Homo sapiens: one gene and its partner. The protein of the gene in region 2 purifies or fractionates together with the protein of the main gene of each other region. This does not show direct contact. Each region holds a gene or a part of one and is shown on either strand. Other genes may lie near its edges.

The links.
Region 1: the proteins of NIT2 (region 2) and SUCLA2 fractionate together in Homo sapiens (co-fractionation; one large-scale study listed by BioGRID). This does not show direct contact.

Annotation. Positions count from the first base shown.
Region 1 is NC_000013.11:47,991,274-47,994,773, reverse strand, and holds part of SUCLA2 (succinate--CoA ligase [ADP-forming] subunit beta, mitochondrial precursor), read left to right. Parts: intron 1-3,500. UniProt on the Homo sapiens protein: ATP-specific succinyl-CoA synthetase functions in the citric acid cycle (TCA), coupling the hydrolysis of succinyl-CoA to the synthesis of ATP and thus represents the only step of substrate-level phosphorylation in the TCA.
Region 2 is NC_000003.12:100,332,625-100,338,334, reverse strand, and holds the start of NIT2 (omega-amidase NIT2), read right to left. Parts: upstream 3,579-5,710; 5' UTR 3,544-3,578; coding exon 3,537-3,543; intron 1-3,536. UniProt on the Homo sapiens protein: Has omega-amidase activity. The role of omega-amidase is to remove potentially toxic intermediates by converting 2-oxoglutaramate and 2-oxosuccinamate to biologically useful 2-oxoglutarate and oxaloacetate, respectively.

The DNA of each region.
Region 1 (3,500 bases), on a different chromosome or scaffold from region 2:
TGGAACAGATACCTTGTTCATTTAGAAAGTGTGTTTTTTGTCAAAGAATATTGCAAATGATGATTATAGTGTGGGAGGGAGACTAATAATTAACAAGGAAATTTAAATCTAGAGGAGCAGAAATGCTAGTTTTTAAAAGATAAATTTAGAAACGTCTATGAAAATATGGAGGACAATTTCGTGGTTTTTTTTTTTTTTTTTTTTTTGAGACGGAGTCTCACTCTGTCGCCCAGGCTGGAGTGCAGTGGCGCGATCTCGGCTCACTGCAACCTCCGTCTCCCAGGTTCAAGCAATTCTCCTGCCTCAGCCTCCTGAGTAGCTGGGATTACAGGTGCCCGCCACCATGCCCAGCTAATTTTTGTATTTTTAGTAGAGACGGGGTTTCACCATGTTGGTCAGGCTGGTCTCGAACCCCTGACCTTGTGATCCACCCGCCTAGGCCTCCCAAAGTGCTGGGATTACAGGCGTGAGCCACCGCACCCAGCCCAATTTTGTGTTTTTAGTGAGTCATTGATAACAAAAGATAACGATTATGGGATCTAGTTGCACAAGGTGTAGAATGAGGGACCTTAGAAATACACTTGGTTTTGTTCATGTAGCTAGCAATTCCCAATGCTGAGTTTTCATTACTTCAGGGTGATTTTTGCTTTTTGACTTTCTGCAAAATTCATAAAATGCTAATTTTCATTTCATAAAAACTCTTTTTTTTTTTTTTGAGACGGAGTTTCGTTCTTGTTGCCCAGGCTGGAGTGCAATGGCGCCATCTCAGCTCACCGCAACCTCCGCCTCCTGGGTTCAAGCAACCTCTGCCTCCTGGGTTCAAGCAGTTCTCCTGCCTCAGCCTCCTGAGTAGCTGGGATTACAGGCATGTGCCACCACCCCGGCTAATTTTGTATTTTTAGTAGAGACAGGGTTTCTCCATGTTGATCAGGCTGGTCTTAAACTCCCGACCTCAGGTGATCCACCTGCCTCACCCTCCCAAAGTGCTGGGATTACAATAGGCGTGAGCCACCAGGCCTGGCCTTCATAAAAACTCTTAACTCAGCGCTTTGCTCAACAAGTGACATAATAGAACATAAATGCTTTACAGGTGTGCCAAACTATTGTTTCTTCCCAGTCCTGTGGTGGCAGGAGAAGTTGAGTTAGCATGGGGTTTGGGGCCACTGAGCCTCTTTACCCAGTATTTCCTACCATGTCCATCATTTTCTGTTTGTGTGATGATGTGAAAAAAGTTGAGAGGCATTGTCCTGTAGGCAAGTTTTACCTGCTGTGAATAATTGAGGTTAGGAATGGAGGAATGGTTAGAAAGAAATCTAATTCTAATATTTTAAAAGACTATATGAGTCCCCAAAATGAAGGTTGGTGAGCTTGAAGATCATGAAGTTTCTGGAATAGATTATCAAAGGGATGGTTATTAGCACAGATAAATGTAGTAGATATTATTTGGGGTCAGTTCTGAGAGCAAATTATCTCTAACAGTTCATAGTTCAAGGAAATATGATTTTAGTAAGGGTTTGGCAGAATGTTTGTTGTTTTGTTTCTGAGACAGTGTCTTGTTCTGTCACCCAGGCTGGAGTGCAGTGGTGTGATCATGGCTCATTGCAGCTTCGACCTCCTGGGCTCAAGCCACTTCTCCCGTCTCAGCCTGCTGAGTAGCTGGGACTATAGGTGTGCTCCACCATGCCTGGCTAATTTTTGTATTTTTTCTTGAGATGGGGTTTCACCATGTTGCCCAGGCTGGTCTCAAACTCCGGGGCTCAAGCCTTCCACCCACCCTTGGCTTCCCAAAGTGCTGGGACTACAGGCGTGAGCCACTGCGCCTGGGCACAGATTTGGCAGAATTTTTATAATTTCCCTATTGACTATAGAAAGATAGTTTGGCTTCTAGTATATTTAAGGTGGAATCCCTATCTGGTTGAATAGATACATGTAAAGGGTGCTGATTAATGAATGTCAGCCCGGAGGGAGATTTCTAATGGCATATAATAGGACTTTACCTTCTTTCTTTCTTTTAAATATTTATTAGTTAGATACCTGTATACAAGGAATGCTTAAAATGTTTGTGAGTGACTAAAGGTAGCTGGGATAGTGATTGTGTTTTAGAGACAGTCTTGGGATCCAAAAAAGATCTTGTCTGACTAGAGCAGTGCCAAATGTAATAAGACTGCAGGTTCTATGAGGGCAGGAGAGGTCTCACTCACTGTTGTATCTACAACGCTAGCACAGTGTCTGGTATGTAGATGAACCTGTTGAGTGAATTAATGGAATTGAATAAAATGTTTGTTTCGACCAGTTGTCCTCAGACTTCTCTTCTAATCTTTCTTCCTTTCTTGATAGTTGATGAGACTGTATTTCATGAAAAATTTTTTTTTTTTTTTTTTTTTTGCTTTCGTTGTGAAGGGCTTTTTTTTTTTAGAAGGAACTTTCGAAGAATCATCTTTTGCCCTTAAAGACTTTATATTCCTAAAGAAAGGAAATTGACACTTTGCGGGGAAGAGAAGAACCTTCTGTCTTGCCAAGTGTTTTTGAAAAAATAGAGCTTCGTTACTCTTAATAGGTCAATGTGTTAAGTTCCCAGTTTAATGAATAGGAATGATTGAATTTAGCTCAGTAAAGCACAGTGTAACTATGACCATTTTTTACATTACATTTGCACTGTTTGCCTTGTAGTTCTCTTCTTCGGATATAAACAAATATTTAAAGTGCTGGAAAATCAGGACTGGACAGGTAAACAGAAACAAGTGGAATAAATAGTGGCTGCTCCCTTCCGTTTGGGCACAAACTCTCTAATTTGCCATGGTTCAGAGACAACCTGTAGTATTCTCAATAAGAACGTTATTGTTGGTTTTAAGGAAATTTCTGAGTTGTTTCTATTTGTTACCTAATATTAGTTGTGATACATTTGTGAATAGTAGAGACAGGGTAATTGAAAAGGGTTTGTCTTATCTAAACAAGATACTTTTTCTAATCAGCTCTAGTTGTAGTACTGTGCACCCAGTTTTTCCCATTGGGAGTTTTCGTAAGAGCAGTGAAGAAATCTAGATTTATAAGAATTCTGTTCATATTTTTAAATGTTCCTTTTTTTCAACATTCAGCAAAATATTATGTGCTAGGAACTCTCCCAGACGCTTGTTAACATCTATGAATACAACAAAGATTCTGCCCTCCTGGGCCTCTTTTCTGATGGGGAAGCAAAACAACAAATGATATATGTAAGAGAATTACATATGTACGAAGATGATGAATTCTATGGCGGAAAGAAGTGTAGTAGGTAAGGGGGATTGGTCACAGGTGGGCAGGTTAGTAGGGTAAGCTTCATGGGCAACATGAGATTTAAAGAGAAACTTGAAGGATCGGGGGCTTTTCCCACATGGACACCTGGTGAAGAGTATTCTAGGCAGAGGGTGCATTAGAGCCAAGTCCTGAAGGCAGGAACATGCCCAGGAATAGTGAGGGGATTAGTGCAGTTGGAACAGAGTGAGCAACCAGGAGGGCCTAGG
Region 2 (5,710 bases):
GAGGTTGAAAGAGATACTGCAGAAGGAAAAGCTAACAGCACTTTTCTCTTGCTATCTGAACAAGGGAACTGGGCCCCACAAATTATGTAGCCAGCCCTGACAAGGTCTGTGCTCAGCCCTGGAGCAAGGAGGTTGGGGGCTCTTCCAAGCTTATTTCTTCCTGGAGGTAGTAGCTATACATCATATTTGCTTTTCTTCTGTTCTTTAAAGTTCCCTTTTAGCTTTTATGATAATCACTTTCCATTAGCTAATATTTTTTATTTTGAGGCAGGGCCTTGTTCTGTCGCCTAGGCTGGAGTGCAGTGGCACAAACATGGTCCACTGCAGCCTTGACCTACTCAGTTCAGGCAATCCTCTTGTCTCAGCCTCTTATGTAGCTGGGACCACAGGTATGCACCACCATGCCGGGCTAATTTTTTAATTATGTAATTTTTTGTAGAGACAGGGTCTCACTTTGTTGCCCAGGCTGGTCTCGAACTCCTGGGCTCAAGCGATCCTCCTGCCTCAGCCTCTCAAACTGCTGCGATTATAAGCATGAGCCACCACGCCTGGCCAGATAATAATTTTTTATATAAAATTTTCCGCCGGGTGTGATGGCTCACGCCTGTAATCCCAGCACTTTGGGAGGCCAAGGCAGGTGATCACCTGAGGTCAGGAGTTTCAGACCAGCCTGGCCAACGTGGTGAAACCCCGTCTCTACTAAAAATACAAAAATTAGCCAGGTGTGGTGGTGGGCACCTGTAATCCCAGCTACTCAGGAGGCTGAGGCAGGAGAATCAGTTGAACCTGGGAGTTGGAGGTTACAGTGAGCCAAGATCGCGCCACTGCACTCCAGCCTGGACGACAGAGTGAGACTCAGTCTCCAAAAAAATAAATAAATAAATAAATAATTTTCCTTGTTCGAGTTACTAGTGTTGTTTCCATGTCCTGTCTGGACCCTGATGGATACATAGTTCCTGCTTATGGTCTGGTGGGACGCAGCAGTAAAGGATCCAAAGCACATTATAATCTATGAAGCTCTGCAAAACTTCAGGAATTATTAGTGTAGGGAAAAGAAAGAGCGATCAGATTATTACTGTGTCTGTGTAGAAAGAAGTAGACATAGGAGACTCCATTTTGTTCTGTACTACGAAAAATTCTTCTGCCTTGAGATGCTGTTAAACTATAACCTTACTCCCAACCCCGAGCTCTCTGAAACATGTGCTGTGTCCACTCAGGGTTAAATGGATTAAGGGCTGTGCAAGATGTGCTTTGTTACAGATGCATGAAGGCAGCATGCTCCTTAAGAGTCATCACCACTCCCTAATCTCAAGTACCCAGGGACACAAACACTGCGGAAGGCCGCAGGGACCTCTGCCTAGGAAAGCCAGGTATTCTCCAAGGTTTCTCCCCATGTGATAGTCTGAAATATGGCCTCGTGGGAAGGGAAAGACCTGACCGTCCCCCAGCCCGACACCCGTAAAGGGTCTGTGCTGAGGAGGATTAGTGCAAGAGGAAGGAACGCCTCTTTGCAGTTGAGACAAGAGGAAGGCAGGCATCTGTCTCCTGCCCGTCCCTGGGCAACGGAATGTCTCGGTATAAAACCCGATTCTATGTCCCATCTACTAAGATAGGGAAAACCGCCTTAGGGCTGGAAGGGGGACAGGCGGGCAGCAATACTGCTCTTTAAGACATTGAGATGTTTATGTGTATGCATATCTAAAGCACAGCACTTAATTCTTTACCTTGTTCATGATGCAGAGACCTTTGTTCACGTGTTTATCTGCTGACCTTCTCTCCACTATTATCCTATGACCCTGCCACATCCCCCTCTCCGAGAAACACCCAAGAATGATCATAAATACTAAGGGAACTCAGAGGCCGACGGGATCCTCCGTATGCCGAACGCTGGTCCCCTGGGCCCCCCTACTTCTTTCTCTATACTTTGTTTGTGTCTTTTTCTTTTCCAAGTCTCTCGTTCCACCTAACGAGAAACACCCACAGGTGTGGAGGGGCAACCCACCCCTTCAATTAGTAATGGCCTGCCCGAACTTCCCATCCCACCTCTGCTCCAGAGTCTGAAAATCCTACCATTAGAGAGCTATCTCTTTTGGGTGTTTCCTGTAACAACGCAAATGTCTCCAGAAAAGGCAACAATGACAAACCCTGGCCTCTGATGAAGGCCTGTTTGGCTCAGGGTTAACTAAAAGGAAAACTCAGATGTCCCATTCCTTGATCTATCCTAAATATAGTGAGAAGCACTAAATTTAACCCTGAAGGCAGCCTGCTAAATAGTTATAGAATCTGAAGGGAAACTAAAACAGGAAATAAAAGCTGGGATTATTCTGGGGCAAACAGATATTTTGAGCTGTTATCAGAACAGCAGATAAATCCACTAAACGTCTCCCCTCCATTTCCCAGCGTTAAGCCATTCTCCCTCCTCAGCTTCCCAAGTAGTTTGGGACTAAAGGGGCGTGCCACCACACCGGGCTAATTTTGTATTTTTTAGTACAGACAAGGTGTCGCCATGTTGCCCAGGCTGGTCTCCAACTCTTGACTCGTGAACTCAAGCGATCCTCGTGCCTCAGCTTCCCAAACTGTTGGGATTACAGGCGTGAGCCACGTGCCGGGCCATGTCTGTGCTTCCGAGGGTGGGAAAGATAAAGCTCACCATGGCTACGCTGATGGCTTCCTCTCCTACACATCTCACCCACAAGGGCGGGGTCCTCAACTAAGCTTAGGACTGCCTATCATTCTGCAAATGACCCACTCTACAGACATGCTGCAGCAGGGAAACCCCGCCACTGGGCAGTTCCTCATGCTGAGGAGGAGACGCCCGTCACTCCATCTCATCTGTAAAGTGAAGACTTTTAAGGCTGCCCTAATATTCATCATAATCTAACAACGAAGACCTTACCAAGGGGCGGAAAAAAAGAATAAAATACTGTGAGCGAAGGAAACAACAAAGGAATAACATTTAAAGCAATGTGCCAGGTCCTTCACACATTAACATCATTGTGTGAGGTATCATTAACATCATTTTACAAATAAAGAAACAGGGGACTTGCAGGGGGAAAGCTGCACAAAGTCACTGAACAAAGTAAGTGACACAGCAAGAATCCAAGTCAAAATCTGGAGCTGGAAAGTGAGTGGGGAGACGAAGAACCGCCTGGGCACCTTTGTGCAGGGCGGGGCTGGAGGAGGTCACGCAACTTGAAAACACCCAAGGGAGTTGGATCCTACCACCGCGGCCCACACCGTGGAGAAATACACGTCCATCAGCCTCTGTCAAGCAGGACGCGGCGGGTGCCGGCGCGGCCGGGTGGCCTGGTGCTTTCTGGGCCTCGCCCGCCACCCCGGAAGCCTGGAATCCCGGGAGTGCGCCCGGCCGCCCGGCCACGCGATCCCGGACCCACGCGGACGCCCGCCTCAGGGAAGGCCGCGCACGGCGGGGACGCGGGGCGGAGGGGCTGAGCCGGCCGAGCCACCGCCGGCGCCGCTCCAAAGCCTCCCCCGCGGCCCGAACTCGAGCTGCAGCGCGCGGCCGCGCCACTTACAGGTCATGACTCTGCAGACAAGCACCACCTGCGGCGCGGACTGAGCGCTGGAGATCCGGCGGACCGCGGCGTCGCTACGGTGGGGCGGGGACCGCGTCAGAGGCCCCGCCCCACCCCTCCTCCTGGCCCCGGCCGGGAGGAGAGAAGGGTCTGCGTTCATTCCAGTGCGCCTGTAACACCAGGACGGACCAACGAGAAATGGTTAATTGCAACACAGTCCGGAAAAAGCATGCCTCGAAAGGCAAAGGGCAAAAGGGAACGGCCTAAGTCGAGGTGGTGTGCTGGTGAATGTCTTAACAACCAGACTTTTCAGGGAGGAAAGCCCTGATTTGTAGCGTTTGCTGATTCTCCGCAAAAGGACTGAACTTCTAGCTGGTTGAATCACCTCTGTGGCCAGGTTAACACCGTATGCTGATGGGCTTGAGCTATTTGAACAAGTCTCTGTGACGGGGACGGAATGACCCTGGTTGGTTTAGGCACGCGAGACGTCTGTAAAATCTGACTACAAGGCTGCTAGGCCAACGGGAAAGATGCTGAGGGTTCAACGCCATGCCCTCAACAAGTCAGTCCTCGAATACATTGTCATCTCTTTGCTAATATCCTTTTTTGTTTGTTTGTTTTAGACAGGGTCTCACTCTGTCATCCAGTCAGGAGTGCAGTGCAGCAGTCTCAGCCCATTGCAGCCTCAACCTCCCGGCTCAAGCGATCCTCCGTCCTCAGCCTCCCAAGTAGCTGGGACTACAGGCACACACCACCACACCTAGCTATTTCTTTTCCTTTTTTCTTTTTCTTTCTTTCTTTCTTTTTTTTTTTTTTTTAAGTTTTTTACTTTTAATAGAGGTGGGGCCTTGCTATTTTGCCCAGGCTGGTCTCAAACTCCTGAGCTCAAGACCCTACTGCCTTAGCCTCCCAAAGTGCTGGAATTATAGGCGTGAGCTGCTGCGCCCAGCCTATAGACTATGATTTTTGCATTTTTATTTATTAGATTGCTTTTTAATTTTCGTGTTTTGTGTTTTTGTGCCTTGTCAGACTTGTGGAACAAAAATCCAAAACTTAACCACCTTTTGGAATGCCCCAGAATAGTTTATACTGAAACAGATCTTGGTTTGTAAAAGAACACTATAAAAACATTTTGGGGGCAACTAGGGAGATTTAAATATGAACGAGATATTTGATGCTTTTCTGAATTATTTTGTGTGCTATAGTGTTGTGCTTGTGACAATTCTTTACTCTTAGAAAATGAGGAAGTATTAGGGATGAACCATCAGAATGTTTGACTTGAAAATCGTCAGCAAAAAGAAAACACATAAGATAAAGCAAATATGGCAAAATGTTAATTATTAAATCTAGGAGGAGGACACAGCTGTTCATGGTACTAGATTAAAACTTTGTAGAAGTTTAAAATTTTAAGCTTTCATAAAAAAAAATTGGGGGGAAATACATAGCAGTTATGGTCTTTCTGCAGCTTAAGAGACTATCTGGACTTGGCTTTGTAGCAGGAAGATCTTTAAAAACCTTTTCATTTCTGCTATGCTTATTAACCTATGAGGTTTCAGGGTCAACCTGTGGTCACTTACAACCTGTTAAAAAAATTCATCTAGATTTCCAAATTTATTGGACTAACATTGTAACTAATAGTGGTCCTAAACCTGGCTGGAAATGTTATTTGAAGTGCTTGTTCAAAATGCAAATTATTTCATTTTTTTAGAAGTGGATTCTTACAGTGTTGCCCAGGCTGGTCTCAAACTCCTAGGCTCAAGTGATCCTCCCACTTTGGCTTCAAAAAGTGCTGGCCTTATAGGCATGAGCCATGGCATCCAGGTGGAGATGCCCAGTAGGCAACCGGACCAAAGCCTCAAGCTCAGAAGATGTCTGGGCTGGAAATTGACTTGGGAGTCACCAGCAGTTTTAACTAAGAGGAAGCTCTGAATTTGGATGAGAACACACAAGCGGAGTATGAAAGGCACACGCAAAAGAAGAAGGGCCTGTGGAGCCTGGGAAGGAGCCATTAGAGGAGAAGGACCAGGCCGGGCGCCACTGCCTGGTGGAGGAACAGCTGTGTCCTCCTCCTAGATTTAATAATTAACATAATCCCAGCACTTCAGGAGGTGGAGGCAGGTGGATCAAGAGGTCAGGAGCTCGAGACCAGCCTGACCAGCATGGTGAAACCCCGT